Linked DNA regions of Homo sapiens: region 2 is linked to region 1. Evidence: fine-mapped expression QTL. A gene starts in region 1. The other region holds a variant in brackets. All regions are shown on one strand. Distances are from middle to middle.

The links. PIP is the estimated chance that this variant, and not a neighbour inherited with it, causes the effect.
Region 2: its variant is fine-mapped to the expression of CARINH in whole blood (TOPMed, PIP above 0.99).

What each region holds. Positions count from the first base shown.
Region 1 is chr5:132,405,059-132,421,148 of GRCh38, reverse strand. It overlaps CARINH (colitis associated IRF1 antisense regulator of intestinal homeostasis), which reads right to left and starts at 10,220. Exons shown (of 4, transcript NR_161242.1): 1 at 10,108-10,220; 2 at 1,209-1,326. It also overlaps a transcript of LINC02863 not described here. RefSeq lists enhancers at 199-338, 10,822-10,871 and silencers at 5,331-5,519, 9,922-10,211, 10,282-10,581.
Region 2 is chr5:132,451,060-132,467,149 of GRCh38, reverse strand. The region is part of intron 3 of CARINH (colitis associated IRF1 antisense regulator of intestinal homeostasis); the gene reads right to left. Among named protein-coding and RNA genes, the nearest start is that of IRF1, 32 kb to the left of the region's middle. RefSeq lists enhancers at 269-648, 2,210-3,174, 9,240-9,469, 9,397-10,066, 10,067-10,737 and 4 more and a silencer at 11,016-11,208. The variant C/T (reference allele first, on the strand shown) is at 5,920.

The DNA.
Region 1 (16,090 bases):
CAGGAAGGAAAACACAGTTAAACTGAAAACGGTTAACTGGTGTTTAAAAAAAAGAAACCAGCCCGGAAATGTTTTTAGGACTGCGTCTATCGAAGTCCCTTAGGGACTGATTTGTCCTTCAATATATTCATAGCACCTGCTTTCACCAAAACCCAGCAGCCCAACGCTAGAGCTTTGTGAGTGAGATGCAGAGTGGAACTGGACATGGAGCTACACAGCTCTGAATCATGTTCCCCAACAGCAAGCAACAGCCACATGAAGGATTCCTGGCAGTGCCCTCTAGCCACTACAGTGGGCCATGGGAAGCCATACAAACAGCAAATGGCATCCTGCAGCCCCAGCTTCTCCTTCTGCCGCATTCCTCTCTCTGTCCATGCCTCTGCTTCCCCATTGGCCCACTGGCCAAATACACTCAGAAAAAAGTCCATGCACAAGCCTCCACCCAAATTAATTCCACATTCTTTCAAGAGAGGCCTTGAAAGGTACTGAAATTCAGGGAAGCTCTTCACTAGACCCCTCACTGGAATGCCAAGAAGTGATGTAGTGGCCCTTGACATAAGGGCTTATTCCCATTTATGAAACTGAAATTATTTTATTCTAAGCACAAAGCTAACAAATGTGATCAAAACAGAAAATAAACAATCCTCATTCAAGTGCTCAGAATGCAGCACAAATAGGATCTTGGGATAAATAAGATAGAGCTGTGAAATTAATAGGGGTGAGAAGAGGGGAGGGTCAGCGGGAGAAGTCCACCAAGGGGCTGAAAGGCCTGTGCAGGCAGATGGAAACCCTGGGTTCTTAGGGGCCAGGCATGACAGTGCAGAATAGTCCACCCTGGGAGTGACTGGAAGAAGGACTGCAGGGTCCCCGTGAAGAACACCTCACACTCCCAGCTTGCCACACACTTGTTGAACTATTCTGGGTGGATACCTCCTACCTGGATGGCAAAGGAGACAGGCCCAAGATGCAGAAGGGAAGGGAAGTCACACTTACAATGCAGAGGATGCGCCCTTGTCCCTCATACTCTCTGAAACATTGCAGGAATAATTCTGGTTTCACTGCTATTGTTTGTTGTTTTTGTAAATAAACCGCAAAAATCAACAAATGGCCTCAAAATTGAACACATGTGATTTACACCAATTCATATATCAAAACACAAATAATGCAGAACAAATTAGAGAAAAACTCCGGTCAGGCTCTCCACTCACCCATGGCTGGTGGCTGGCATTCAACTCTCCAGCAGCCAGGGAGTCCATTTTCTTGTTTCTCTGCTGGCCATCCTCAGGACTTGCGGCGGGGAGTGGGGGGCCCAGGGTGTGCTGCCACCTGCAGGCCAAACAAGGAAAAAACATAAGCAACGGCCCCAATCATCCGCCTGAAGCCCCTCCTATATCCTCAGGCCGCTGGAAGACCTGGATGCCCGTCGTGGGACAAGAGCCAGAAGCACTCACCCAGTGCCAACACCTGCTGGGCCACAAACAGTTTCTGCTTGGGATCCCAACACAGGCAGCAGAGTCAGCAAAAACTCTAAGATATCAAGAAGTCAAGCATTTCTTAACAACAGCAGCAAACTCTTACACAGGGCTGTGGTTACCAGACACTGCTCTAAATAACTTACACTTGTTTACTTATTTCATCCTCACAACAACGGGTAAATATTTTAGGTCTCTGCCAATTTGCCTGATTACTGAATTAGGTTGAATCATTAAAATGAATAACTTGATAATACCCAATTTCAAAGAGGGGTCACATATGAAAACTCTATGAGAGATTCTCAGCATCTTGCAGACATTCATTCCCTAAATATTCATTGAGTGTTTGTTATGGACGAGACACTGTTCTAGGACCTGGGAAGAGAGGAGCGAACACACAAGACAAAGTCCCTGTTCTCACGAAGCTTCTGTTCCAGTGCGGGGAGGCAACAGTAGAAAAGGAGACAAATGCCATGCAGAAGAAAAAGCAGGGAAAAAGAGATAGAGCACAATGACAATGCTGTTAATACCCATTCATTTATTCACTTATTTCCAAGGACTTACTAACCATGTCATTTCTTGCCCACAGCTGCATGCCAGGCACTATGCCAGATAAAATTGTGGGTAAGAAATAGACATGGTCTCTGCCTGTATGGAGTACTTACATAAGAGGAACATCTATTATTAGTCAAATAATCACCTAAATAAATGCAAAGATGTTAATCTGTGATAGGTGTGATAGCAGAATTGCATGTAGTCCTTGTGAGAGCATCTCAAGGAGGCCTGACCTTGTCTAAGGGGAGGCCTGAAATGGAGTGTGGGGAGGAGCAATGTGTTAGTCCATTTTGCATTGCTATAAAGGAATATCTGAGGCTGGGTAATTTATAAAGAAAAGAGGTTTAAGGCGGGGTGCAGTGGCTCACACCTGTAATCCCAGTACTTTGGGAGGCTGAGGCAGGTGGATCATCTGAGGTCAGGAGTTCGGGACCAACCTGGCCAACATGGTGAAACCCTGTCGCTACTAAAAACACAAAAATTAGCTGGGTGTGGTGGTGCACGCCTGTAATCCCAGCTACTTGGGAGGCTGAGGCAGAAGAATTGCTTGAACTGGAGAGGCTGAGGTTGCAGTGAGCCAAGATCGTGCCACCGCACTCCAGCCTGGGTGACAGAGCGAGAATCCGTCTCAAAAAAAGAAAAAGAAAAGAAAAGAGGTTTGGCTCACAGTTCTGTAGACTGTACAAGTGTGGCACCAGCATCTGCTTGGCTTCTGGTCAGGCCTCAGGATGCTCACAATCATGGTGAAAGGTAAAGGGGGAGCTGGCATGTCACATGGCACAAGAAGGAGCAAGAAAGGGGAGGAGGTGCCAAGCCTCCTTTAAACAACCAGCTCTCGCCTGAACAGAGTAAGAACTCACTCATTACCTCGGGGAGGGCACCAAACCATTCATGAGGGATCCAGCCCCATGACCCAAACACCTCCCACCAGGCCCCACCTCCAATGCTGGCGATCACATTTCAACATGAGATTTGGAAGAGACATGCATCCAAACCATATCAAGCAGTGTCCCTGTCAAAAGCACACCCTGTGCACAGGCTGGATCATGGGTAGTTGGCAGGGACAGGAGGCAGGGTGAAGCTGGAGAAGCAGTGTAGGTGACCCTTGCATGACACTCCCAGCCACAAGAGGAGTTCGAGCCTTAACCCTGGAGAACTGGAGCACCACACAAGGGTCTTAGGCAGAGGATTAATGCATTTAGATGTGTACTTTTAAAAGATTATCTATGTAGGCTGAGTAATGGCCCTGCCAAAGATGTCTATGTGTGAATCCCTGGAGGTTGTGTGTATGTTCCCCTATATGGCATAAGGGACATTGCAAATGTGATCGAGTTAAGGGTCCTGAGAACCGGAGATTATCCAGGTGGGCCCAACATAATCACAAGTGTCCTTATAAGAGGGAGGCAGGGGGAGATCTGACTTCAGATGAGGAGCCTCAGAATGATGTGGCACGAGAAAGACTTGGCTTCGAAGAGGAGGAAGGGGCCCTGAGCCAGGGAATGCAGTGGCCTCTAGAAGCTGGAAAAAGCAACAAAACGATTCTCCTCTAGAGCCTCCAGAAGGAACGCAGCCCTGCCAAAGCCTTAATTTCAGGACTTCTAAAAGAGTAAATTTGTGTTGTTTTAAGGCACTGATTTTGTGGTAATTTGTTACAGCAGCAATAGGAGAATAGGACATACTAGCTCCTGTAAAAAACCAGACTGGACGTAAGGGCGAGGCGAGGCAGGGACCAGCTAGAGGTCACTGCTGTGGTCCAGGCAAGAGGTGTGAGAGCTTGCACCACAGTGGTGGCCGTGGGGATGGAGAGGAGTGGTGCAGTTGAAGGACCCCAGCAGGGGAAGAGCTGACCAGTCAAAGGTCTCGCTGCAATCTGGCAGATGTTACTGGAATGCCACAACAGGCCTCTTTCAGGCTCAGGCCCTGGCTGGCTCACCCTGGCTACAGCCCAGCAGCTTTACAGAAGGAGGAAGCTCACACCAGGGCTGTAGACCACTCCCAGGCAGATGCACCATTTACTCACTTAACCTGCCAACCCCATTCCCACAAAAAAGTTCAAGAGTCTCCAGGAACAAGCCCTAAGAAAGAACACGTGGGGAATTTTTACTAGGCAAAAGGTAGCAATTATTTCTGCCAAGCATTAAGCCTTGCAGCGAACTTTTTTTTTTTTTTTCCGTGAACAGAGATTTTGTAATTCTGGAAGAGAGGTGTCCAGATTTAAATATACACATCTCCAACACAGGTGATACAGAACCATGATTAAATCTAACATCTAAAAACTTCATGGTCAGCAGAAAATGCAGAAATTAAAGAAAGACTAAACAAGAAACTAGGAGACTCAGCGTCTACTCTATTCTTGCTTAATAATCCAGACCTACTTAAAAAATGGGATCCTAATTTGGTCCTGTTTAATGGAGCTGTCAAGAAGAAAAAGCAATAAAAATTATTCGAGAGAATTTTAGAAACATTCTCCCATTCTACTCCAAAAATATAAATATGCACACTCCAAAACCAAGTACCTTGGACTGTACTGAGAGATGACAATGACGTCTTAACCGTACTATTTCCCCATGATGTTGCAGCAGGCCACAGGGACCTAACTGAATTGTAAGAACATGAAAGGACCCAGGAATGCCTGCAGATGACAAAATACCAGGTAGTCCTGTCAGTGTAGGAGCATGTTAATTTAAAAATAGATATATTTTTCTGGTGACAAAAGTGACATGTCTATTACTGGAAAACACAAACAACTCCTGTAGTCCAATGATCCAGAGATAACCCATTTGGAAATATTTTCTTCCAGTCTTTTTTCCCCATTGATTTCGGCACAGGCGCGCGCACACACACACACACACACACACACACACTCATACTTCATTTTTAACAAAATTACAATACTGTATATACTTTTATAACCAGTTTTATATAACAGTATATAATCCTCCATGTATTAAATACAGTTTTTCATAATGCTAGTATTCCATCATATGAAAGTAGGAAAATCACTTAACCAATCCCTAATTGCTGAACAACTGAGTAGTTTCTAACTTTATGGTAACATAAGTCATTGGGAGGAACCTCCTCATCTACGGGAATATCCCTAGATATAAATCTATGTCTATAGCTCTGATTATTTCCTTAGGGTCCTATTTCCTACATCCATGCATTGCCATTACTATTTTGCTATAATTAATTACCATCTGTAATGTACTTAACATTTCTCTTTACATCAACTCATTTCTGTCCTTAAACAAATGTATTTTAAAAGCAAACCTGACTCGGTGTAGTGGCTCACACCTGTAATCCTAGCACTTTGGGAAAACAAGGCAGGCGGATTGCCTGAGCTCAAGAGTTCAAGACCAGCCTGGGCAACATGGCGAAACCCCGTCTGTACTAAAAATACAAAAAATCAGCCGGGTGTGGTGGTGCGTGCCTGTAGTCCCAGCTACTCAAGAGGCTGAGGCACAAGAATCGCTTGAACCTATGAAGCAGAAGTTGCAGTGAGCCAAGATCATGCCACTGCACTCTAGCCTGGACAACAGGACAAGACTCTGTCTCAAAAAACAAACAAACAAACAAACAAACCTTATTTAAGTGGAAAACCAACATCATATGCCATAAATGAAGGCAATCATAATAGGTTTTATTGGAATAAAAAAACACTGTGGTTAAAATATAGTCAAAATACTGCTACCCCTTTGCCCATTCTTTTATATAAAATGGGAGATTAGAGAGGCTTAGAGAGGTGTTAAAGGTATGCTAGCACCAAGCTAAAGTTTTTCACCTTCCGTTGATCAGAAGACTGAAAAGGAATTGAGCATGGGAATAACTTTCTCACTGTGAGTCAGTGTTAGACAATGTGGCAAATGTGTCCCAACTAGAATTACCCTGCGCCACCTGAAATAACCTCATATGAAAACATGCCTTAGGACATATTCCTGGAAGTAGAACTGGGATAAAAGGCATGGACACTTTAAGCAGCTTCTGATAACCACAGCCCAAACACCATCCAAGTTAGTTTTACCACAGTTTTACTATGACTGTGTCCATTTTACTTCACGTTCACAAATATTAAGTACTATAAACAAAATATTAAAATAGTTAAAACGTTTCAGCTTTTTGATGTAAAATATCCAGCAGCTGAATCTTCAAAGGCTATTTTCATGCTCTTCTAGCTAGTCCCTGACCCTAGGGCAGGGCTATTTTATGAACCTTTAATTAGTGGTAAGCTTACAACAAACTGATACTGCACTTGGTTTCACCAAGCTGAAGTAAACTCTGTAAAAGATGAGGAAGTGACTTTAGCATTTGCAAATATTTCAGAATGCCTTTGTGCCAGCAAAGGTCAAACAACGATCAGAATTGCATGGATTCCAAAGTATACTTTTGGGAAATAAGAGACTCAGAGAAGCATTACTCAAGATACAATTCACTATGAATTTTCAGCAATTCAATGAAAAGTCTAAAAGAAATACATGTTTAAACTTTCCTATCCTGGTATAATATGCAATTGCACAAATAGGTTAGATTGTAGATTAATGCAATTGTTAATATTTCTAACATAGAAAAAGGAAATTGTATTTTGAAGCAAGAAGAATTAATAACAATTGGAATTGTTCAGGTTATTTTAATAATTCCCAGGCAGATACCTATGTGTATATGTGCCTGTGGGGAAAAGGTAAGGAAAAAGAGACGTGAGAAAACATACTTATGTAATTCCAGCACTTTGGGAGGCTGAGGCGGGTGGATCACTAGGTCAAGAGATTGAGACCATCCTGGCCAACATGGTGAAACCCCGTCTCTGCTAAAAATACAAAAATTAGCTGGGCATGGTGGGACCTGTAGTCCCAGCTACTCGGGAGGCTGAGACAGGTGAAGTGCTTGAGCCCGGGAGGTGGAGGTTGCAGAGAGCTGAGATTGTACCACTGCACTCCAGCCTGGGTGACAGAGCGAGACTCCATCTCAAAAACAAAAACAAAAACAAAAAATAAAAAAAAAGATTTATTATGTTTGGAAGGAGGTTATAGGTTCTGATTAATTTTTGCCAGAGACAAAAATACAAGTTTATCTAAGCTTAAGAACTAAATGATGGCCTATTGTAAGATATAGAACTTCCAACTCACTGAATAAAAAGAAGGAAAGAAGAAACAGGGGACAAATACACTTTGATGAATCCATAGAGTCACAAGGAAAAAAAAAACACACATGATAAATACATGGCAAAACAAGATGGCAAAAATAAGACCACATTTATCAGTGATCAAAATAAATATGAATGAATTAAATTCCATTGTTAAAAGACCAAGACTTTCACCCTAAATGCCCATAAATGGAAAATGGATAAATTATGGTATGTATTCCATTTTAATGGATGTGTATGTGTGTGTATGTATGTGTATGTGTGTGTATACACCACAGAAAGAGGCCCATGAGTTTCAGTTTAGAAAGATGTAGAAATATATTTGTATAAGCATAGGAAAGGGTCCAGAAAAACACACCAATATGATATCTGTGGTTGCCTATAAAGAGCAGTTTACCTATGAGTTTCAGTTTAGAAAGTTGTAGAAAAATATTTGTATAAGCATAGGAAAGGGTCCAGAAAAACACACCAATATGATATCTGTGGTTGCCTATGGAGGCTGAAGTGGACTTTCCTGTCTCACTTTACAAATGTCTATACTGTTTGAATTTATTACAAAAGCATATGACTAAAGAAACATGAAAAAATGGAATAATAAACATAAGGGCAGAATCAGCAAAATAGAGGACATAGAGGACCAAAAAAAAGGTGGTTAACAAAACTTGAAGTATTTATTTGAAAGTAGACAAACCTCTAGTGAGACTGATCAAGAATAACTGACAGAAGATTTTTTAAAAATGAGATTACAGAAAAAGGAAGAAATGACAAATAAAACAGACATTTTAAAACTTATAAAGGAATAATATAAACACATGATAATACATTTGAAAATACAGATGAAATGAATAATTTCTAGACAATAAAAATTGCCAAATTTGGCACAAAAATGTGAATAACCACTTAAGAGACTCAAATAATTTTGAAACCTCTTCCCCATAGAGTTTCAGACCCAGAAGATTTTACAAGTGCCTCCTACTAACTTCCAAGGAGCAGAAAATCTCTATCTTAATGGAGTTGCTTTAGAAAATAGAAAAAAAGAGAAAACATTGCCCAATTTGTTACTTGATTTTGAAATGTTAAATATGGACTGTACAAATAAAGAAAAATACAGGATAGTTTCACTTATAAACATAGATGTTAAACTCCTAAATAAAATATTATCTAATCAAATACGAAAGTGTATTACAAATACATCATGATAAAGTAATTCACCACATTAGTCGATTGTGGAAGAGGTTACTAGTGCTCACCAGTCTCTCGTTCTTTTCCTCCTGGGAACACCACCAGGCTACATTTCCCAGCCACCTTACAATTAGGTGAGACCCATGAGACTAGTCCATGCCAATGGAATGTGAATGGAAGTGCATCTAATTTTCTGGCTCATGAAAACAGCAGCATTTTCTCTATTTTCTTTTTTTCTTTCTTTGTTTTTTTTAGACGGAGTTTAGCTCTTGTTGCCGAGGCTGGAGTGCAGTGGCGCGATCTTGGCTCACTGCAACCTCCGCCTCCCGGGTTCAAGCAATTCTCCTACCTCAGCCTCCCAAGTAGCTGGGATTACAGGCATGTGCCACAATGCCTGGCTAATTTTGTATTTTTAGTAGAGACGGGGTTTCTCCATGTTTGTCAGGCTGGTCTCAAACTCCCGACCTCAGGTAATCAGCCCGCCTCGGCCTCCTGAAGTGCTGGGATTACAGGCGTGAGCCACCGTGCCCGGCAAGAGCAGCATTTTCTAAAAGCAATCAGTACTCAACACCATCCTGCTGAGGTAGGGCAGCGGCGGACTCCATGTTTTGAAACTTAGGAACTTAGACCATCTTTTGTCAAATTCAGATGGTTTTCTCAAAGTAAAGATCATTCAAGTTTTGTTTCAGTAATGGGCCGTATGATCAGATCTGTGTGATTAGGCTGAATTCATTATTATTGAGACAAAAATTGAGTTAAAGGGGATTCTTGGTATTGGCCTGCAAAACCTGTCATAACTTAAATGTAAAGTTTCTGATGATTTAGTCACTTTACTCTCAGCTCTTAGCTCTTTCACTCACCTGTCCTTGTTCTACACAACCTGCCTGATGGGTAACTTGAATACATATTTTCTCTCTTCAGGGGATGGGAACGCCCTAAGGGCAGGGGCTGTTTCCACAGCCCTGGGGTGGAACCCCCTTCCTGCATACCAAGAATGAGTTGGCTATACTTGACGAAGGGCAAAGACAAGGTGGCACGCATCTTTCATGCTTCTGCTGGCAGATGCAGTGGACTGGAAATTTCCTGGTCTGGGAAGGACTCGGTCTGTGAGTGCACCTATCCCTGACATCTATGCTAGCCCCGGGATGGGGGCCCCAGCAGAGTAAGGCCCTGACTTCACATGGACAGGGCCAGGGCAAGGGGGCCACATCCTGGCCTAGTTGCTCTCCATGCCCGTGATCAAGGGAGATGAGCTGCCAGCTTGCTCGGTCAAGGAACACTTGGAAGGCACTCCAAGTGCCCCCAGGTGCACCAGATCTAGGAAACTTAAGCAAACTACATGAGGTATGGGGTGGGGCCCAGTGGGAAAAATGAGTCTGACAGGTCAGAGGGAGTAGATTATGAGCTCAGGTTAGGCATTCTGTTCAGCATTTTACGTACACCCTCCCACTTTTGATTTTTACCAACACCCAGGGAGGTCGGTGCTCTACAAAAGGGAAAGGCGTGCTCAGGTGGCCCGACTTGCCACGGTTCCAGCTCGACCCCGGGCTGCTAGCCCCTTGGCACGCTTGTCTGAGGCCTCCCAGGTCTTCCAGCCTGGCCTGGAGGCTCAAAGCCACGAAACCCAAGGGTGCCGCTTCTCAGGCCCTCCCCGCCCCCACGGCAGAACCCCTGACCCTGCCCGGGTCAAACGCCTGGCGTCGGGCCCGCCGGGTCCGCAAGGAGGAGCCCGCGAGGCGGCCGCGAAGGGGCTGTGCTTACCTCGCCCGGCGCGGGTTGCGGCCCCAGGGCCCGCGCTCCAGGCTGGCGGCCGCTGCATTCTGCGCCCCTCGCCTGAAACGGCAGCTGCGCCAGTCCTGGCCACGACCGCTTTCATTTTCCTCAACGACATCGGCAGGAAAGCGAAAGCGAAACCCTCCGGGAGGCGGGACCGGGGCCGAGCGCGCAGTGAACGCGGGGCGCGCGGCGGGCGCGGGCCGGCAGCCAGAGGCGGGGGCCCCGGGCTCGGGTCTGCGCGTGGCCTGGCCCGGTGGCGTTCGGGGTGGAGCTGGGCCAGCCGAGTGCCCGAGAGCTAGTCCGCCACGCACACCTGCCTCGGCGGGACCCGGGCCCGGGCTGGGCGGGAGGCTGGGCAGGCCCGCCGTAAGTGGAAAGGCGCCCGCGGCGCTTCGGCCGACCGGGACAGGTTCCTCCATCTGCCCTTCATTCAGCGTTTACTTGGGCCTGTGGCTGGCAGCCGGCCCGGGACCTGACCGCTGGCGGCGCCTCGGGCTCTGGCCTGAGGAGGCAGATGGCAGCCTGAGCAACTGGGACCAAGCCTCTGAGGAGTCCCCGTTGGAGGGGACTTGACCATGAGGTACCAGGCATCTCATCTGGGGTCAGCGGAGAACCCAAAAGTCAATGACGTCGGTGAAATGGGGGTCCCTTCATCCGATAAGAGAAACTGGAACAGCAAGCCTATGGTTTGGACTCCCTGGTCTAAGCGGTGCCCATCAATATCTAAACATTTAGAGATTCCAGGTTTCAGTGTCTGGCCGTCTCTTACTGTCAGTGATTTGGGGCAAAATATTCAAGTAGTTAGACTTAATTACTTCCCCTGTGGGATGGGAATAATAATAATCATACCTACTGCCAGAATTTTAGGAATGAACAATAGAAGGAAGAAAATACTTAAAATTTTCTGACAGCCTCTAAGTGGGTTCCTTGAGGGCAGCAACCAAGTCATTTACCTGGATGCTTGATAGACATTCTCTAATGGCCAGTCCATCAACTTGGAGCTATCTCCATGATAACAGGTTAGTTGTCAAAGTTTGGACAATATTATCTGGAGTTTAAAGACTGAGGAAGCCCTGCAATTTTTTTTGGAAGGTGTCTGAAACTTAGCCTGACAATTAGCCCCCACAATTATGCCACGGAACCAGGTTTTTGTTAGAGTGGAGCATGGCCACAACGTTTGATGGACATTCCTACAGCGGTGTTCAGCGCTGGCCACTGAGGTCTGAAAATACTTTTGCAAGCATTTCTATTCACTTGCTTTTAGAAAACATTGGTAAGACACCATACTCCAAACACAGTTTGCCCTGTCTGTACGTTTGTTGCAAAGCAAACATAAAAGTTTTTGCCATAGAGCAAACACAGAGCAGTCTGTTATAACTGGAACAAGAAACCAAAATGAGCTATTAAATCTGCCCAGAGTCACTTTGGTTTACCTGTTTGTAATTTGGGCACATTCCCTGCAAGATGGAGGCCCTGGTCTGTGACTGATGTAGGGGCTTGTATGTGTCCTTGCAATAGTTCCCTCAAGAGCAGGTGGGAAAGTGGGGCAGGCCAAATGATGACCTTAGAAAAACAACAGCCTGTTTCTCTGTCCAGAAGATGCTACTTTTAGTCTGTAGTATGAAGGAAAAAGAAAAAACAAAAAAGGCAAGCCTTGGAGCCTCTTCCTCCTTATAGGACAATTCTTGACTCCAAGATAGCAAAGTAGAGTTAAATCTGCTTCTGCATAAAAACTATGTTTGGGAAGATGAAGATCAGGAAAAGACAGGAAGAGATGTAAGCAGATAAGCCAAATCCTGGTTACCTTTTATAGACATCACACATGTGAACAGAGAGCATCAGGAGGTCAAGGCCGGCCTGATGTTTTTCATCTTGGCAACTTCCCAAGGTCCAGGTTTGGTCCTTGACTTTGTGGGGCCAAAAATCTCATCTGACTTCCAGTGTACCAGAGTCGATTAGCACTGTTGCATAAAGTCAGAATGACAACTGACTGATTTCATTCACTATTTGCTAGAGAAGTGCTATGCTAAATGCATTACATGCATTATTACCTCATTATTTCTCCCTACTATCATGTGGTATATTATAATCTATTTATTTTTCATTTGGGAGAAAAAAAGATGAAGGAAATCCCAAGGTCACATAGTTACTATGTATGTTAGTGGCAGGGTTTGAATCAAGGCCATCTGACCCCAAAACCTGAAGCTTATCCATTCCTGTTAGAAGCAAGACTGTCGGGAACACTGGACTCGAGGCCACCTGATGAACACATTCTCTTCTTGTAGCCATGCAGTTTGGAGCCCCATAGTCAGAAGGTGGCTTAGTGAGCCTAAAATCAGAATCGGAAGAGTGAATTGTCTGACTTAAATGTTTGATGATATCAGGCTCGGGCAATGTGGGATGTCTCTTTCCACAACACAGGTCAAAACCTATAGGAAGTACTGTTCACTCATCCCTGCTGGCCTGGCCAGCCCTTCTCCCTAGATGGGGCCTGGTGGACACCATCTGTTTGTGTCGATGAGGCTCTCTGTATTATGGTACCCAGGCCGCCTCTCCTCAGATGGACATTTTTAGATAGAGCAAGGCGTTACTGAGTAACATTACTCAGTAAGGTCTCTCAGCCCTTATTTTTCTTTATGGAGACATTTTGTATCTTTGCTCTGATTGGCTTGATTTATAATTTAACTTCTAAAGGACAGCTTTCTATCCCACCTTTTGGAGACAGCTCTGTTTTCCTTACTATCCTTCCTGATCTAACCCTGGAACAAAAGTTTGTGCAGTAGCAAGTTCTGCAACAAGAACTTTATCCAGGCCTGCACTGATAGTCAGTAAAGACACAAAAGAAGCAAAAGTCCAAGTCCAAGGCCAGTCCCAAAAGACTTTACTACAGAATCGGGCAATGGAGGGTTGGGGGGCGGGGCACAGCTGATGATCACGCAACCCAGCTGAAGAATGATATAAATGGAATGAAAGCATGGTGCAAGCAGCATCTAACTTAGGAGTCACTGGTTAGGAAAAAAAAATACCTGATGTGTGATTCAGATAAAAATGAAAAAAATAACCCTTTTAGATATTTCATTCAACAAATATTCTGTGGCAACTACAAAATGCAGCCACCCTGCTAATGCTGGGGATTCAGTGATGAGCAAAAATAAATGTGGTCTCTGCCCTCGGGAAACACACTTGAGTGAGGTAATAAAGCAATCAAATAATTGGTCAAATATAGAATGCCATCCTAAATACTACAAGATGCATTTGACGCTATAAGAGGGAATGCCAGAGGCAAAACTCCTCTAATGGGCCACCTGTACTCTGGGGCTTCCTGTCAGTCTGGCCAGCACTTTCTCAGAATGGCTCTGCAGTCTGAGGCTCTTCCTATCTACTCCTCCATCCTTCCCTCTTCTCTTTCACAGGGGTCAGACCTGCATTACGGTGTGGGGCTCTCTCTGCTTACTCTTGCTTCTGCTCCTCTTTATTCTTCATAGGCATTTTCCCCAATAAACTCTTCCAGGTTTAATTCCATCTTGGTGTCTGCTCTAGGAGGACCCAAGCTGACACAATGATGCCCTTCATTGACTTGGAGAACCTTGGAAGAGGCCCAAGTTTTGGAGGGCTCCAATTCTGCACATGTTGGCTTAGGTGTCAGGTGGGCAAGGAAGCTCCATATCTGCTTTCCCACTCAGAAGATAATGCTTGTGCTTTGGTACTAAGCTATCAACCATGTCCTCTGTGGGAGCTAGGGTCTGGTCTTGTTTTTAAAATGCTTGTTCCATGGATAATCAGCAATTCTCAGTTTAGATCTCAATACTAGAACTATTTCCCTCTAGAAAAGCACAACCTACCAATAGCAAAAAACATCCCTTAACTTCCTTGAGGAGGAGTTAAAAGTCAAAAAATCGAAAGGAGATGAGCAATTGTTCCTGAACAGCCAAAGGGAAATAATTTTGATGTAGGGGGGCCCTTAGTTTTCTGGGAAAAGGAAGTCTTTTTTTTTTTTTTTGAGATGGAGTTTTGCTCTTGTTCCCCAGGCTGGAATGTGATGGTGTGGTCTTGGCTCACTACAATCTCTGCCTCCCAGGTTCAAGTGATTCTTCTACCTCAGCCTCCCAAGTAGCTGGGATTACAGGCACCCGCCACCACACCTGGCTAATTTTTGTATTTTTAGTAGAGACGGGGTTTCCTTATGTTGGCCAAGCTGGTGGCGAACTCCAGACCTCAGGTGATCCACCCACCTCAGCCTCCCAAAGTGCTGGGATTACAGGTGTGAGTCACTGCACCCGGCCTGGAAGTCATCTTTTATAAGTGTTCCTTAAGGAAAGAACTTACATGTTTGGCAGCACAGATGGAAATCTGTCATTGTTGGTAGAAAGAAGCTAGCACTCCAAAAGGCACTTTTGCTCTGAGCTTAGCCTCCCTGAGCAAGGTGCCCTTGGAGAGCTGGGTGTCAAAGGATGACCCTGTCACTGAGGTTCAGTCACCAGCAACCTGTTCTGAGTGAATCATCTGTTTGAAGGCAGAGCTCTTCAGGTCCACCGCTGGTTCTTCCCATGGAAGGAGGCTTGAACACAAATCATGAGTACTACATGAATATTTGAACGTGGCACTCAGTCATAGTCAAGTATAGCATTTCCCTCACCAACTGCACACCCCAGGGAGCCCATATCCATCTCATGGTGGTGTGGAGGCTGACAGTAGGCGAGTTTACATGCTTTGTTCCCAAGCTGTCAGGAAGCCCAGATACTATTAGTCTGCTTGGTCTAAAAAGAGAAAGAAGTAGGTGTGGGCTTCATGAAGGATGTTTTGCTGAGGGCTGTGTCTCTCATTCAAGGATGAATGAGTAAAAGCATTTGTTAAGTTTTTTTTTTTTAAAACTACCAAATGTACAGTGAGTGTACTACTTAAGCACCTTAGGGATAAGCCTGTCTTTTCCGCCAAAGGTAGTTACAATTTCCCTCATGGAACCAAGCATAATATGATAAGGACTAATTATTTGTAGAGTCAATAATTACATTATAATTTACATGCATGATCTAATTTAATCTTTATAGAAACCTGATATAGGTAAGGAATTTTACAGTTGAGGAAACAGTCTCAGGAAAGTTAAGTGACTTCCCCAAAGTTATAGAGCTAGTAAGTGAAGACATCTACTTTTGGACCATATACTTTATCTACTCTGGATCTGGGCACTTAGCCAAAGCCATAGTGCCTCCAAGAAAGAGGGTGTCATGGGGTAAACCTTGAACATGAATAGAATTGGGATAATCAGAGATGAAGCAGGACAACGTATGGATGGAGGCAGGAGTGTCAAGGAGAAATAGAGAGCTAAAAGTGTGTCATATCAGGAGTTGAAATGCATTAAAAATATGTGAAGTTTGGACCCTTTTATCGTAATATAATGACCTTCTTTGTCTTGTTAAAATCTATTTGTCTGATATTAATACAGCCATTCAAACTCTCTTTTGGTTATTTGTATGGAAGATCTTTCCAACCTTTTAATTTTCAACCTATTTGTGTCTTTGAATCTAAATTGAAACTGTTGTAGACATCATAATAGTTGCATCATGATTTTAAAATCTATTTGGTGAATCTCTGCCTTTTAATTGAAGAGTTACATTTAATATAATTACTGAAAAGGGCTTACTCCTGCCATTTTGCTATTTGTTTTCTATGTCTTTTATCTTTTTTGCTCCTCAATTCCTTCATTACTGCTTTCTTTTGTGTTAAATCCATATTTTCTAGGATAATTCTAAATCTGTATCTTTTTAAAGTATATATTATTTATTTATTTTCTTAATAATTGCCCTAGAGATTACAGTTCATATATTAATTTGTAACAACCTGGTTTAGATTAATACCAAGTTAATTTCAATAATATGCAAACACTTTGTTCTTATTCAGCTCTACTCCCTTTATATTATATTTCCACAAATTACATCTTTACACATTGTATGCCCATCAACCTAAATTT
Region 2 (16,090 bases), 46 kb before region 1:
CTGTGGCTGCTTCCAAGGACGGTGATTTCTGACAGAGGCAGCTGGACCTTGGCACATGCAGAAGTTTCAGCTCAGCATCAGTGCTGGCCTTCAGGAGGCCGCATTGGCAGGCGGCAGCAGTGACAGCCAATGGGCAGCAAAGCTTGTTGCTAAGGTCACTGTGAGCCTTATTTGGTGACACAGGGCTGACCCTGCATTCACCTCTGAGAACCCTGGGAAACGCCAACCACAGATGTGAAATATGAACGTCTCAAAACCACAACTGCATTTCCTTTGAGAAAAGATTCGGCTGTCCTCCTCTCCAGCCTGCCTCCCTCCGCTGGATGTCTTTTGTACAATGGCTCACTACTGCAAGAGGCAAGAGCCTAGGCTACAAGAAGAGTCTGCTACAAGCTAGTCCTGGGCAGGCCTGGACAGGGAGAGGGCAGGGGCTGCTGTGCAGGCGGCCCCAGGACCTTCAAGGACCTCCAAGACTTCCGTTCACACCCAGCAGCTGCCAACCCCTGCCCAGGCCTCCCCCAACACAGCCGGAGGGCCTGTTCCTGGCCCCACTTCCTGCAGCCTTGGGAAGCCGGCTAGCTTGAGAAAGGCGTGTGGCACTCATGGAGGAAGTGGGCCGGCACTGGGGCTCTCACCATCTGCACCAGCCACACCGCTTCGGTGCAGCCTGGAGCTCAAACGGTTGGCGGTTTCAGTTTTTCACCTCCCTTTGGTGCATCTTCCAGCTTATCATTAAATAAGTAAAACTGTTGCTCCACCCCAGACAAATGTGGGAGGGAAGTTGTGTCTTCAATATTTCCCAAATAACACTCACTGCTCCCTCCCATTCATACAGCACCTTCGGGTCTGGGAGCTGTGCTCACATCTGCCATCTCATTACATCCTTGCAACCCTCGCAAAGGTAATGACTGAGCTCACACCATGTGTCAGGGACATGAATGAATTCACAGAATTCACTGTAATTGTCCCCATTTTACAGAAGAGAAAATGAGACAGAGAAATTCAGTCATTGGCTCAAGGTCATCACATAACTAGGATTTTCTCCCAGATGGCTGAGTTCCAAAGTCTGCCCTATTCTCTTCTGCTACATTGCCTCCATGGCACATACACAAGAACGAGTTCCATTTACTGATGAGAAAGTGAGGCTGAGGTGAAAGGGTGGTGTGGGGCCTGAGGTCAGCGTTGCTTCCTCAGTCCACATCTCCTCCCAGAGGATGGTCCACCAACGTCCTTCATCTGCCCTCCCCCTTTAAAAACCACTGTCAGCCCGGCACGGTGGCTCATGCCTGTAATCCCAGCACTTTGGGAGGCTGAGGTGGGTGGATCACCTGAGGTTGGGAGTTCGAGACTAGCCTGAGCAACATGGAGAAACCCCGTCTCTACTAAAAACACAAAAATTGGCTGGGTGTGATGGTGCATGCCTGCAATCCCAGCTACTCGGGAGGCTGAGGCAGGAGAATTACTTGAACCCAGGAGGCAGAGGTTGCGATGAGCCGAGATCACGCCATTGCACTCCAGCCTGGGCAACAAGAGTGAAACTCCATCTCAAAAAACAAACAAACAAACAAAAACACTGTCATGCCCCCACCGCCAGCTTGTCTCCCTTTCTTTTTAGGTGTGGCCCACAGAGCTCAGTGCCCTGCCTATCTGGAAGAGGCTGTGAAGCCCATCTATGTAGGTAACGGAGGCAAAGCAAGGGCTAGGGAGAGTGTGCCATGTGGGACACCTCCCCCTATCACCTCCCCACTGCCTGCACACACTGGGGACAGTCAAAGCATTCCTCAGGCTGGGGGTAGGAGCTGTGGGCGGAAGAGCTGGGGCATCTGTTCACAGAATCCTCCCCTGAAGTTGCTCGGAGGGGCTGGGATGCAGTCCAGACACTGGGGAGCCTGATGCAGACGCCTCCCTGGAGCACTGTCCTTCTCTTGGGCTCTTCAAGCCTGCCCTCACTCATGAACACATATTTTTTGTGTGTACTTCCTGCATGCCAGGCACTACCCAGGCACTGTGGATGCACAGTGAACAACACAGACCAGGTCCACGCGTCACAGACTTTACTTCCCTGAGGGAGGCAGACATTAGGCAAATAATCACATGGATCTCTGAAAAACATAGCTCCTACGAGAGGGTGCAACTTCAGGGGTCTTAACCTACAAAGGAGTGTGTGGGATTAGGGGGTTAGGGCAGCTGTTCTAAGGATGAGACATTTCAGGTGAGGAGAGGAATGGGGTGGAGTTGGCAGGGGGGCTGGTTCTCGGCTCTCCCCGACTGCCCTCCTTCCCCGCATTCCAGTCGCTTCAGGAAATCTGCCGCTTCCATGAGAGCTTCTTTGGTGGTGTCTTCCAAGCTGCTACCAAGCGATGGCTTTGCCAGCTGTTGCTTTCAGTGTTTGTGCCTGGGTGAGCACAGCCGGTATGAAATGGCCCAGATTAATCGAGAGCCAGGCCCCTCCTAAAGTACCTCTGAAAAGAGTTTTTCAGCATAAGCATGACATTAGCTTTTCCTAGAGAGGAAACCACCCCCGGGGCTGACAGCAAGCAGGCCAGGCTTAAAGGAAGCAAGTGCAGCGCTGGGGCCCCTCCATGCCCTGCTGCAGACAGGACACCCTCACTGCCTTCCCCCAACATGCTCCCCCACTCCCACTCCTGCTTCTTTCTCCCTGGGGGACTCTCCTTGTGGAAAAGAAACCCCAACAGTAGGGGGAGCGAGTGAAACTGGAAAATGAAACTGTGATTTCCAGTTTCATTTTCCAGTTTCAATTTAGAAGCAGCTCTGCCAGCTTTCCAGTGCCCGTGCCTCAGGGCATCACAGAGGAGCTGAGGGGCAGGAAAAAGTGTTCCAGCCAGCAAGCACCCTGCTCCCTGGGCACCCTCAGAGGGCAGGTACTGGACTGGTAGAACCCACTGAGCAGGGAGTTGTTGCAATGCCGATTCCTGGCTCTCCAGGCTCTGAGGCCGTACGTTTGGGCCCTTTGGTGATTCTGATGCAGGCTGTGGACCTCACCATGGCAGTCGTGGCCTCAGAGACCATCAGAACAGCTAGAGCACACCTGAGGCACGGCCTCATCCTCTCCAAGTCACTTCCTGCCACAGATGCTCGGGAAGTGCTGCTTCTCTGTGCAGCATCTCCTGCCCTCCTCCATCTGGTGTTGGAGGCATCTTAGATGTTCTCTGGGACCTGAGGTCTGTAGGAAACCCCGGCTGTGGACTTCACACAAGGGTCGCTCTTTCCCACACTCCAGGTTTCCCTTTAAGCTGCTAATTTGTAACAGGCATTCATAGAAACAGAATAAGATAGAGAAATTCTATTAAAGGACCTTATGTGCTTTTGCTCTGTCTGTTGCTCCATTTATTTGCAATTTATAGCCTAATCCAAGAGGATTTAAGGACAATTAAATATTTCTTTCCCCTCAGTGTGTGTGTGCGAGTGCACGTGTAAGAGTGTGTAGGGGTTGGGTCTTCCAATGTACCTTTGCCCTGGTTTGACCGTGGGGGGAGAGGGTGGGCAGGTCTCCAGGCCTGCCAGATGTAGACCTTTCCTAATGTCTACAGCAAATTTGTTCTTCAGTGTTTCTAGTATCAGTTTTTGATCAATCATTAATCAAAGTTGCAATAAAAAGATAATCTTCTCAGGACTAGGCTATAAAGGTCCTGGCTGCAACCTTAAAAAACCCTTCTGTGGAGGCCTCAGAGCCAAGAGAAAAGGGCGATGTGTCTGTGGCTGGATTTGGAGGTAAATGAACGTGCTGTCCCTCTCTAATTGGTGTGCACGAACATGAACTTCAGTCACTTGCGTGGCTATGGCCTCTTTCTTCATCTCTCCCTGCCAGTGAAGCTGGTGGTGCCCTGGCTCCCAAGCCAGGTGGCAAAGCTGGGGAAGGAGGCTGTAGTTGGGCCCAAATATGGGGGTCTGGGGGCACCTCCACAGGTTGTGACCACTGCAGCATGCTCTGGGGCCAGGCCTATGGCAGTGGAGGCAGGACAGCCCCCAGGACCACAGAGCCCCCATAGTGGAGGGAGCCACTACTTGGGCGGCTCAGCTCATTCCTGCTGACTTGCTGCTGTACAGGGCAGAGGGGTGCCTGAGACAAAGAGGAGACACACTTCTCCCACGAGAAATAAAGCAAGCAGCTGTTCCTCTCTTGGGCCCAGCAGGGGTCAGAGGCTGTGGGACCTTCACTCCTTCCCTCTCAGTGGAGAGGGCAGATCTGCTCTTTGGGGTGTGAGGGCACAGCCTCCTGACAAGCTGGAGAAGCAGGATTTAAGAGCTAGAATCAACGGAGAATGTGAGGCCCAGCATCAGGTTCAAGAAGCAAGGGGATCAAGGTTGGGGGGGAGGCAGGGAGCCTGAGCCTGGCGCAGCCCAGACCAACAGACTGAGGAGTCCAGAGAGCCAACATGCTCACTCGGCCATCGCTAAGATGTGTAGTGTGTGAGAAGGTGTGAGAGGTACTCGCGTTTCTCTCTCCAACCCCTTCCAACATATTATTGGGTCGTGGGTGCCATGTTTTTAGTAGACACATAAAATAAATGAGTATTTTCAGAGAAGTGCAACCCTGGAGGTGCAGGGGAGTGAACTCAGCCATGAGAAATCATTCAAAGGATTGACCTATGGAACAGGGATAGACTTGCTCTCCATGGCTCCAGCAGGGAAGCAGCAGAGAGGGGAACCTTTCCTGAAAGTCCAGTGTGACATCTGAAGACACACACACACACACACACACACTTTTTTGAGAGAGAGAACGAGAATGAAAAGATACACACTGATCTTTCAACAGTCGTTGTCTCTACCTGGTGATTGCGAATGATTTTAATTTTTTTCCTCTTGTGCTTACAGTATTTTCTAAAATCTCTAAAATACACCCAAATTACTTTCTTGTTATGGCAAAATAGACATAAAATGTCTACATCCATTTTAACCATTTTTAAGTGCAGAGTTCCATAGTATGAAGTACATTCTCACTGTTGTGCAGCCATCACCACCATCCATCTCCAGAACTTTTTCATCACCCTCAACATAAACTCTGCATCCACTAAGCAGTATCTCCCTGTTCTTCCTCCTTCCAGCCCCTGGCAACCATCCTTCTACTTTCTGTCTCTATGAATTTCACTATTCTAGGTACCTCATATAAGTGGGATCATCTGGTATTTTTCCTTCTGTGTCTGGCTTATTTCACTTAGCATAATGTTTTTAAGGTTCATCTATGTTATAACATGTACCAGAATTTCATTCCTTTTTAAAGCTGAATTATGTTCCATTGTACATATTCACCATATTTTGTTTATCCACTCCTCTTGTCATGGACATCTGGGTTGTTTCCACCTTTTGGCTATTGTGAATAATACTGCTACAAACACTGGTGTACAAATATCACTTTGAGTCCCTGCTTTCAATTCTTTTGGGTATATTCCTAGAAGTGGAACTGCGGGATCATATGATAACTAAGTTTTTGAGGAACCACCACATTGTTTTCAACAAAGGCTGCATGATTTTACGTTCCCAATAGCAATGCACAAGGGTATCTATTTCTTCACATCCTTGCCAACACTTATTTTCAGGTTGTTTTTGTTGTTTTAAAATAGCCATCCTAACAGATGTGAAGTGGTATCTTACTTATTATGGTTTTCATTTGCATTTCCCTAATCTAAATTACGTTTTAAAATCCAATCCTCTCTGAATTGAACCCTTTGTTCTTTATTTCTCAATAAAATGGACCTTGCCCCCTTTTTTTCCTTCTTTGTACCTATGCTCTGCATTTTAAAAAATTGTGGCAAAATACATATAACTTAAAACTTTACCATCTTAACCATTTTCAAGTGTAGAGTTCAGTATTAAGTATATTCACATTGTTGTGCCCTAACCCAAATATAGTATATAATGGCAAAAAGAAACAAAAGGCTCTCTAAAGAAAAAGAAAGC[C/T]GTGAATTCTTGGACCCCAGAGATGTTCACAAACAGATTGGATCAATCTCAGCAGGGACTTTCATTCATCTTCTGAGCATCTCTGCTGGGCTGGGCTCTGTGCCAGGCAGGGGTCTCCGTGGTGAGTGTGGCCTGGACTCTGCCCTTGGGGTTCAGCCTCTGTGGGGAACAGTTATACCCAAGGGCTGCTGTGGGCACAGAGGGACACCCTGTTGTGTGGGTGCGGCATTGGGAAGGGGCATAAGTGAGGTGGCACATGAGTTCAGGTGGGAAGGATGAGCAGACATGTACATGTGCAGAGAAGGGAACTGGCGTGTGTGGCTGGGCTGTGGCAGCACACCTCACAACCACCATTACAGGAGCATCTATTAATCATTTATGTCTGTCTCTCTACTTGATTATAAGCTGCATGAGAGCAGGGCTGATGGTTTTGTTCACTGCTGCATTGCTGCCATGCCCAGCACAGGCAAGTGTAAAAGAAACACTTGCTGAATAAATGAGTGGTTGATGACGAGGAAAAAGGAGACATTTCTTTCCAGAATCTTGGCTGTAAGCAGCAGACAGCATGGCTGTACTCCACGGGGAAGGCAGGATGGCAGGAAGCATTATACAGGTGATGGAGACAGGAGCACAGCAGGAGCCAGTGGAGAAGAAGAGTTTGAAGATTCCCTGGTTGAGAGAATGGAAGGGCGTAATTGCTGGGGAGAGGTCCCTGAAGAAAGGGGAGAGGCTGGGATGCAGGCTCAGTGGAAGGAGAGGAGTCTCCTTATGAGACTCAGATGGCCAGTGTGAAAAAGACAGAAGATACCAACTGCTGGTAAGAATGGGAAGCACACTGCATGGGGAACTCTCCTACACTGCTGGAGGCGTGTTCTTCCTGTTATTCTAGATTCAGACAGCACTCTGGTCGCTGGTTGGTGCAGGCCACCATTTGGGCCAATTAGAGGAACCCCAATATCTGCACTTGGACTATCAGAAATGAGAGCTCTACGCCCAGAGCAATTTCCAAGATGGGCCTGAATCCATGAGTCATGGCACTACATGGAGCCCAGGGTTGGCTCTGAGCCTAACAGCCTCCAAAATGTCAACTTTGTTCACGTGCCACTTTGTCCCTCATCTCATGCCATGCAGCTGGCAGGACTTCAGTTGACAGAAGGTAGACCCTGCTCTTTTCAAAAAGCACACAGGACAGGTGCTGATAGGCCAGCCCCTCCCACTGAGCTCTAGTTACTGCGGTGAACTTCACCAGGAGGTTCAGCGCCCACTGTGGCTCTGCCTGAGGGGCCTCTGTGCACACTCAGTCCAGGCACTAGCATCCCAGCGCCTGGCCAGTGGTCCAACTCCAGACTCACTACACAGAGCCCCTTGCAACCGATGTGTGCCAACATGGAGCCCACACAGGGCAGCTCAGCGTGACACCTGCACAGCTCAAGACTGAGGGAAGGAAATGCATCTTCTTTCTCAAGTTGGAAGAGGCTGTACTGAATTACCAAATGGCATTATACTCTCTGTGGGGGAGCACAGATGAGTGTCCGGCAGTCCCTGGGATGATGTTACAGTCCAGAGGTGGGGATGAGATGAGCCCAGATGATGCAATGGGGATGCAATCAAGACACGATGTCATTAGAAGCCACAGTGTGTTCTCTCATGCCACGTGTTTCCCAGCTTAGAGGAGTAAGGGGTCGGGGGGGGGAGTGGCCCCCTGGGACCCTGCTCTAGGACGCATGCATAAGGACCCACATGCAAACGCACAGAATTCAAGAGCTAGCCAGGCCTGGACCCATGTAGGAGAGCCCCACTGGCTGATTTCCAATCTGGGACAAAGGCCACAGACAGGAGGCCTCCCTTGGCCACACCCAGGTCCCCAGAACATATGCTCCACTGTCCCCAGTCTAACCACAACCCCATATGAGCTGTGTCCCATTCATGTTGGCCTAGAAACTGGGAAGTACCTGGCATGGGGCCCTCCGCTTCCTCCCCATGACTGCCTGGAGCTCTGGGGAGACCACCAAGGGGCCATTTTTGTGGTTAGGAAATGTCTGTGGCAGCTGTGGACACCACAGGCCCTCCCTGGACCCTTCTGAAGTAGAGGTCACATTCCTAAAGATTCTTAACTGCCAGCTCCAATTGCTTCTTCCTGACAGGCTCATCTTAGTAGGGAGTGAATATAATCTTTTCCCAGTTCCACGAGGTCCTCTCAGATCCAAAATGCTCTAAGTTCAAAGGCAAATCATGAAGAAAGGGAGACGCAGATACTAATTTGTGGTTTTAGTTCAGTGGTTTTCCACCTTGGCTACACAGTAGAGTTACCTAAGGAGCTTTTTAAAAATACTCATGTCCAAATATTCCAACAGGCACTTTGCAAAGAGAAGATCTAAATGGCTAACAAACATATGAAAGGTTGCTCAGCTGTATTAGTCATCAGGGAAATGCAAATTCAAACCACACTGTGATACCACTACATACCTGCCAGAATGGCTAACATGAAAAAGATAGAAAATATCTATGGTTGGCAAAAATGTGAAGCAACCAGAACTCTCATACATTGCTGGAGGGAGTGTAAATGGGTACAGCCACCTGGGAACATTATTTGGCATAAGGTACTAAAGCTGAACATACTCATACCCATGCTTCCCCAGCAATGGATATACATGTACTCCAAAAATACACACTAGCATGTCATTGCAATAGTCAGAATAGTTCCGAATTATAAATAACAACTCGAATATCCAAAAATGCATCACAGTAGAATGGATAAATCGAGGAATATCCATAGAGTGGAATACTCTATAGCAAGAAGAGTGAATAAACTGCAGCTCTAAGTAACAACTTGGATGAATCATCTCACAAACACAACAAGAGGATATATACTGCCTGATTCCATTTACATCATATAAAGTTTGAAAACAGGAGAAATGACTGTACACCATTAGAAGCCAGAATGGACATTAGCCTTTGGAGCCAGGTAGTAAGTGGAAGGGGTACCAGGGGTTGCTGGTGATGTTCTGTTTCATGATTTGGATGCTGGTTACTCGGGGTAAATTCATTTTGTGAAAATTCACTGAGCTTTACACTTATGGTTTGTGCTTTTTTTTTTTTTTTTGCATGTATGTCATCCTTCAACAAACACTTAAAAAATGTTTGAAAACCCCATCAATTCAGTCAGACTCTTTGGGTGGGAGCAAGATCCAGGCATCAGTATTTTTTAATATCCCAGATGATGGTAATATGCAGCCAGGATTTAAAGTCACTGGTTTAATATCTTGGGAAAAGCAGATCCACTCAAGACCTCACAGGGTCCTGACAAAGGCCACTTCCAGCTCAGTGGAGTGAGACACTGGGGTGGGAAGATGTCCATTTTTTGGATGTGGGTCAGTCTCTTGCACAGGCAGAGGTATTGCAGCATGCTGTTGTAATGTGTATCTTCCTTGGCAGTGTCTGTTGAAAGCTGGTTGCATCAGTTTGTAATGGGGTGTAATGGCAACAAGGTGGGCCCAGCCCCCCCCAGGAAGTGGATCACTGAGCACAGCTTCTACAGGGCCATTTGTAGAGAGGTGGCAGCTGGGCTTCCCAGGGGCTGCCACCCAGGGCAGAGCCAGTGCTGAGGCTCTGACAACCTCGGCAGGGTGGGGAGAAGGCCAGACTCAGGGTGTTTATGTTTGTGGGTAATGACAGTCAGCTCTGGGCTCCAGATGATGCTTACTCCCTGGCCTCTGTGTTCAGATTAGGAACTTGCAACATCTTGCTGAGGACCATGTCAGGCTCAGCTCTAAGTGCTGTGGCTGAGAATTTTCCTTCCTCTCTGTGTGGTTAGTGGCAGCCTCCCTAGCAATGGCTGACCTCTAGCATACTCTGTCAAACTACAGGCAGCTGGGACAAGACAGGACATGGGGCTCACAGACAGGTATTCCACAACCTGGGCCCTGTCAACCCTCCCAGAAATGCATGGGCCATGAACCTCCTGCTGTGGGAGGGGCAGTGCAGAGAAGTCTCAATAAGCTTCTCTTGGCCCTCTGGGATCTCCACCATCCACAGTGTGTAGGGCTGAGCTGCAGGCTGGGTCTTCAGGTGGTGTCCCTGCACATCTGCTTTGCAGCGTGGCGTCTATAGAGCAAGAGTGAACAGGAAGGGGCCTCGGGCCTCCTGTAGCTCTGCTGGGCAGGGACGCTGCGGGGCCTCAGCTGGGCTTCCTTGGCTAAAGGGCACAGAGTGGCGTAGGCTGCAAGAGGACAAGCTAAGCTGATGAAGGCTCTATCACTCAAGGGTAGCCATGTAAAAAAAAATCCCTACAGGTAAAAGAAGCATGAATAAGACAGGCGGGGCATAACAGTGTCTCCCCACTGAAGCTGCAACTCTCTGCTTCACTGGCTTCAGCCTCCTCTCTGTGAAATGGGGGCAATGTCCCCTAGGCCTTTTCCTCCTGTCCAGTAGGGCTGAGGGTCTACAGGCCAGAGGGAGGCCTGGGCTCTGAGGCCTGTGCCTGTGTGGCCTCTGGCTGGGACCTCAGCCCCCATGTGCCACGTCACCTCCCTTGTCTGTGAAATACCACAACAGCAGCTCTTGCCAGCCAGTGACACTACCCCTTCCTGTTGTCTTCTTTACAAAGCATTTATGAAATGCTTCCTTTTCATGCTTCAGGAAACCGGTGGCCAGGAGGAGTTCTTGATTTCATTTTCTTCCCTAGAGATATGTGTGCTTCGAAATACACAAATTAAACAAAAACGAGGGCTGACTGGGACCAGGAGAGTGAGTGATCCTGGCTTCCCTTGATTTACATGCTTATTTTCCTTCTCAAATCACTCCAGTAAGTACAGAAGTCACTAATCTATTGCCCTCTATTATCTGCATTATAGTTAAAAACATCGACATGAACAAACAAAAGCCCTTGCGTAGCCTAGAGAAGTCACAAAGCTCACACCCAGACTCTCGCCTAAGAGAGTCTCTCAGGGCTCACTCAGGGACTATTTATTCTTGTTTTATTTTTTTAAATGTTGATACCCTCTCTGCTTGAGTATCCTTGTTTTAGATGCAAATCAGAAAAGGTTGCTGTATTGATCACAGTCCCAGCAGGAAACAGATGCACACTCCACTGGTAACAGGAGAGACTGAGGAAAGGACCGTTTCCAAGGGTGAGCAAGATGAAGAGAAACCCTCAAGGAAAGGTGAAGCATCCTGCAGCCAGCAACAGTGGGAGCTGTGACCACCAATCCCCAGGGAGGAGGTGGGAGGGCTCCTGGAACCCAGAGAGACCAGTAGGAGGGGACTGCCGGCAGGAGCTGTGGTTTTAGGGTGAAAAACACAGGCACTATTGACCTGAGACCTGGCAAGGGAGGGAGCTGGGGGGATAAAGCACCTCCCATTTCCCCTCCCAGCCTCCAACCTCTGGTCAGGGGAGGGGTCTTCAATTGGCCAAACCCAACTGGAAGCTTGGGGACCTGGAGCCTGGCTGATGGAATCCACAAAGGTCAAATCCTGGGAGGAGTGGGAAAGAGCAGAAAATCAACTGGAGCAGGGATGTGTGGGGGGGTGGCAAACAAACAATGCCCGGCAGAGTCACCGGGGCTGGCCATTTGAAAAGAGTACATCAGAAGCTAACGTGCTGTAATGTGGCACTCTCACCACAAATACATAGGATGAAAGGCAGCCAGGGACAGAGGCGGCCACGAAGAAAGGTTTAAAGAATCCCAGCAAAATGACTGGGGTCCTCATTATGGAAGAACAAATAGCTTTACTTAATAATTCCAAGGTAATAGCTTAATAGCTTAATAATTCCAAGGTAAACAAGTATTTTCATAAGGAGGACTCTGAATGATCAACAGAAGGTTAAATGTCACTGTACTGCTTCACAGAGCTGTTACAGGGCAGGGAAGACTATAACACAATGTAGAGATAGATCCATACAAGAGAGGTACAACAGGGTTTCCAGTTCAACACATCAGTTATTTACACTCCTAGTTTCCTTTCTCTCCTGAAGCACCACTAAAATGCTAGTCTAGAAATCAAATGGGGCCAGGTGCAGTGGCTCACGCCTATAATTCCAGCACTTTGGTAGGCCAAGGCAGGAGGATCATTAGAGTCCAGAAGTTCAAGACCAGCCTGGGCAACATAGCAAGACCCTGTCTTAAAAAAAAAATTGGCTGGGTGTGGTGGTGTGTACCTGGAGTCTCAGCTACTCAGGAGGCTGAGGTGGGAGGATCACTTGAGCCCAGGAGTTTGAGGCTGCAGTGAGCTATGGTCACACCACTGTACTCCAGTCTGGGCGATGAAGTGATACCCTGTCTCTTAAAAAAATCAAATGGGGCCAGGCGCGGTGGCTCATGCCTGTAATCCCAGCACTTTAGGAGGATGAGGAGGGTGGATTACTTGAGATCAGAAGTTCGAGACCAGCTTGGCCAACATGGTGAAACCCCGACTCTACTAAAAATACGAAAAGTAGTCAGGCATGGTGGCACATGCCTGTAGTCCCAGGTACTCGGGAGGCTGAGATATGAGAATTGCTTGAACCCAGGAGGCAGAGGTTGCAATGAGCCAAGATTGTGCCACTGCACTCCAGCTTGGGTGACAAGGCGAGACTCTGTCTCAAACAACCAACCAACCAAATGGTATTAACTCTCAAAGGCAAAGAGAATGGTAAAGGAGACATGAGTGGCTGAAAGAGTTCCCCAAACTACAGGAAGCTGGGAGGCAGGTGGAGGAATAATGACTGACATGGAGGAAGCTAGGCTCTGAAGGGCTTGCAGAGGGGCACACTGACAGGAGGCAAGCCACTTTACCCCTGGAACCCTGCAGGAGGAGCTCAGACTTGGGGAGTCCAGGTGTTGTGGCTGGTGGGGCTGAGGTACAGCAGCCTGTGGGGGTAATGAATGGAGGAAACTGGTTGAAATCCTCCCCAGGTCTCACCTCCACACCCTGCCCCACACAGCTGGAGACAAAGACACTGAACAGGAGAGAGACAGGCAGGAGGGAGGGCAGATGAATACAGGGATGAAAACAGGGAGGTGAGGGAAAAGTCTGAAGAATGAAGCGTGGGACTCAATGTCCCACCCACTTACCTTGCCCTGCCCCACCCCAGGTATATATCACTCTGGATGAGGGTATGGTGAATTTAAAAGATGGTTGCAAATTCTTTGACATTTCTCCAATGGAGAGGTGGGTCTGTGTCTCCTTCCTTGAACCTGTGTGGATTTCTGACTACAGTGGAAATGAGCTATGTGACTTCCAAGGCTGGGACATACACAGCCATGCAGCTTCTGTCTTGCTGGCCAGAACACTCACACCAGAGACTTGAGGTGCCTCGTAAGAGGTCCAATGACCAGGCCATGGTGCTGGAGACATCATGTGTAGTCTCTCTGGTCAACAGTCCCAGCTGAGCCCAGCCTTCCAGCTCTCTTTGCCAAGTGAACAACGATCTTACAAGTGGACCCTTCAGCCCCAGCTGTTCCAACTCCCAGTTATTCCAGTCACCTCGAGTCATTCCAGTCATCCTAGCCGTCGTAGAGCAGAGAATTGCCCTTCTGACTCCTTGACAGTGGCCCAAAAAATGGTTGTTGTTTTATGCTACTAAGTTTTGAGGTGGTTTGTTATGTAGCGTTCAATAACTAGAACTAGGAGTTAGAATGCTTCTCTTGAGGAGCTGAATGGCTTCAGGGTGGTGGTTCTCAACAGGGTGATTTTGTCCCCCAGGGGACATTTGGCAATGTTTACAGACATTTTGGTTATCACAACTCTGGGAGGGGGGTTACTACTGGCATTTAGTAGGCAGAAGTCACTGGTGCTGCTAAACATTCTACAATGCATGAGACAGCCTCTGACAACAAGGAATTCTTTGGCCCAACATGTCACTAGTACCAAGGTTAAGAAACCTAGCTCTAGAGAAAAGGTGCTCATTGGAGGCTTGTTAACTAAAAGACTGTCTTGCTTCCTGTAGTGAAACCCCAGTTGATAAATTCTCCCCAAGCAGAGTTTAGTTCAGCCTTTTATTGCTCCATTAATAAATACCAACAGATAGCTGAGATATTTGGCATTTAAGGAAAGCCTCCAACAAGGAGAGATGGAGAGACAGAGAGAGGGAGAAGAAAAAGAAAGCAGAAGGAAAAAGGAAGAAGGAAGAAAGAAGAGGGAAGAAGAAGAAGAACAAGAGGAAGAGGAGGAGGAAGAAGAAGAAGAAGAAGGAGGATGACGACAACGACAACAACAACAACAACAAGAAGCAGCCACCACCGCCGCTGCCACCTCCAGGTAGAAACAAAAACAAAATAGAGACTAGAAGACTATTAAGACAAATGGACAAATGAAAAATAAATAGTGCCTCAAGAAGAATAGGATGGAGATAGTATATGCATAAAAAAGAATGTGGTATTTTTGAAAAAGAACAGGAAGAACAAGAATGAGTACTAGGATATTAGAAAAAGAAAGCCAAAATTAAAAAAAAAATCAACAGAAGGGTTGGAGTATGAAGTCAATGAAGGTTTCCCAAGAAAGTAGACCAAAAAGGCAAAGAGATGAAAAGTAGGAGAGAAAATATAAGGAAACTAAAACATTAATCCAGATGATCCAACAGATAAAATACAGGGAAGAAAATTATTAAATAAATAATACAAGAAAATCTTCCAGGACTCAAAGATGCTACATAACTCAGCAGTGACGAATATGTCCACATTCACTATTGAGTTAACCACAGATTGTGTTATGTTCCTATTGGAAGGATGGAGAGAGGAAAAGTGGGGATGGTTCTGTAGGAAAGTTCAATCCTCATCTATCACAAGAAGTCAACAAATGCCTAAAATCGGTAGATCAAAAAATAGTATAAACAGAAATGGAAACTAGTAAATGGTTGAAAGAGGCAGCCTATAGAGAGGGGGAGTGAGAAAGGCGGGGAAGGGATTTTTATTATGGGCTTCTCAGTACAACTGATATTTAAACCATATGCATGCATTATTTTTTATTTTGTTTTTAATGGATACATAATAATTGTAGATATTTATGCAGTGCAGTGTGATGTTTCCAGACATACATATAGCATGACATGATCAAATCAGGGTAATTAGCATATCTATCACCTTAAACACTTGTCATTTCTTTGTGGTGACAACATTCAAAATCATCTCTTCCAGCTATTTTGAATTTGTGCATTATTTTGATAAATTTGATAGAATAGAAATTAATTTAAAAGGGTACAATTTTAAAACTGCAATGTGATGGGATCAAATTTAATAATTTGGAAAATTCGCTTATGTAGAAGAGTCATGCCTCTCTAAGAATGCTCAATGAACTGGCATAGGTGGGCACAAGCACCATCAGCATGGAAGGGTTCCTCCTGATGTCACTGGCCACTAAGGCAGTTGGTGGGGTGAGGGTGGGGATGAGAGCCAGGCATGGCAGCCCTTAGGTGGTCACCATTTCCCTCTCCTGGCAGCCTGTATTTGCTTGGGAGACCTATCTCTTGGGTATAGATCCTATTGGGCTGCTAAAGAAGAGAGGTGCTAATCCTTTTAGGATGACTTCTGGGAATTCACCAGGATGCCCTGCCTCTCCTACTCTGGACATGGAAAAAAATGCTGGGTTTACCAAAGGTGGATGAGTCAGGCCCAGGACTAGAGCCACGGGGCCTCTCCCTGGACGTGCCATAGTCAGGCTGTCTCGGCCGCTAAAAGAGGCTACACACATTTATTGTCATCAGAAGCTGGGACAGATGAGCCTTGGGTTACAAGATCTCCTACCTGGAGCTCTCCCGGGAGGTGCCAATCATAGGGGATGGGAGGACAAACACATGCTTGGTGGGGCTCTAGCGTTACCGCCGAGGTGCATCTCCTTGGCCACTAGCCCTGGGGTCTGACCTCCCCTTCTCTTTTCCTTCACCCATTGTTCTCTCTATTCCCTTTCTTTCCCACCTCTCTCTCAGTTCTCCAGAGCTCTGTGCAGGGACTACTTAGCAAACTTACCTGCTGAAATGCACTGTTTTTTTTTTAACCTTTTAAATTGTCACTTTTTTTTAAACTATACCATCCTTAGATAAGCAGGAGATATTCCTTGTAGAAAAATAAGAAAATATTAATAATCACCCATGATTCTATCAGTCAGAAAACTCCACTGCTGGTGTATGAATTTCCAGAATGTTTCCAGGCTTATAAACGGGTAAAAATACTATCACAGTCCATGTCTCATCTAAGCA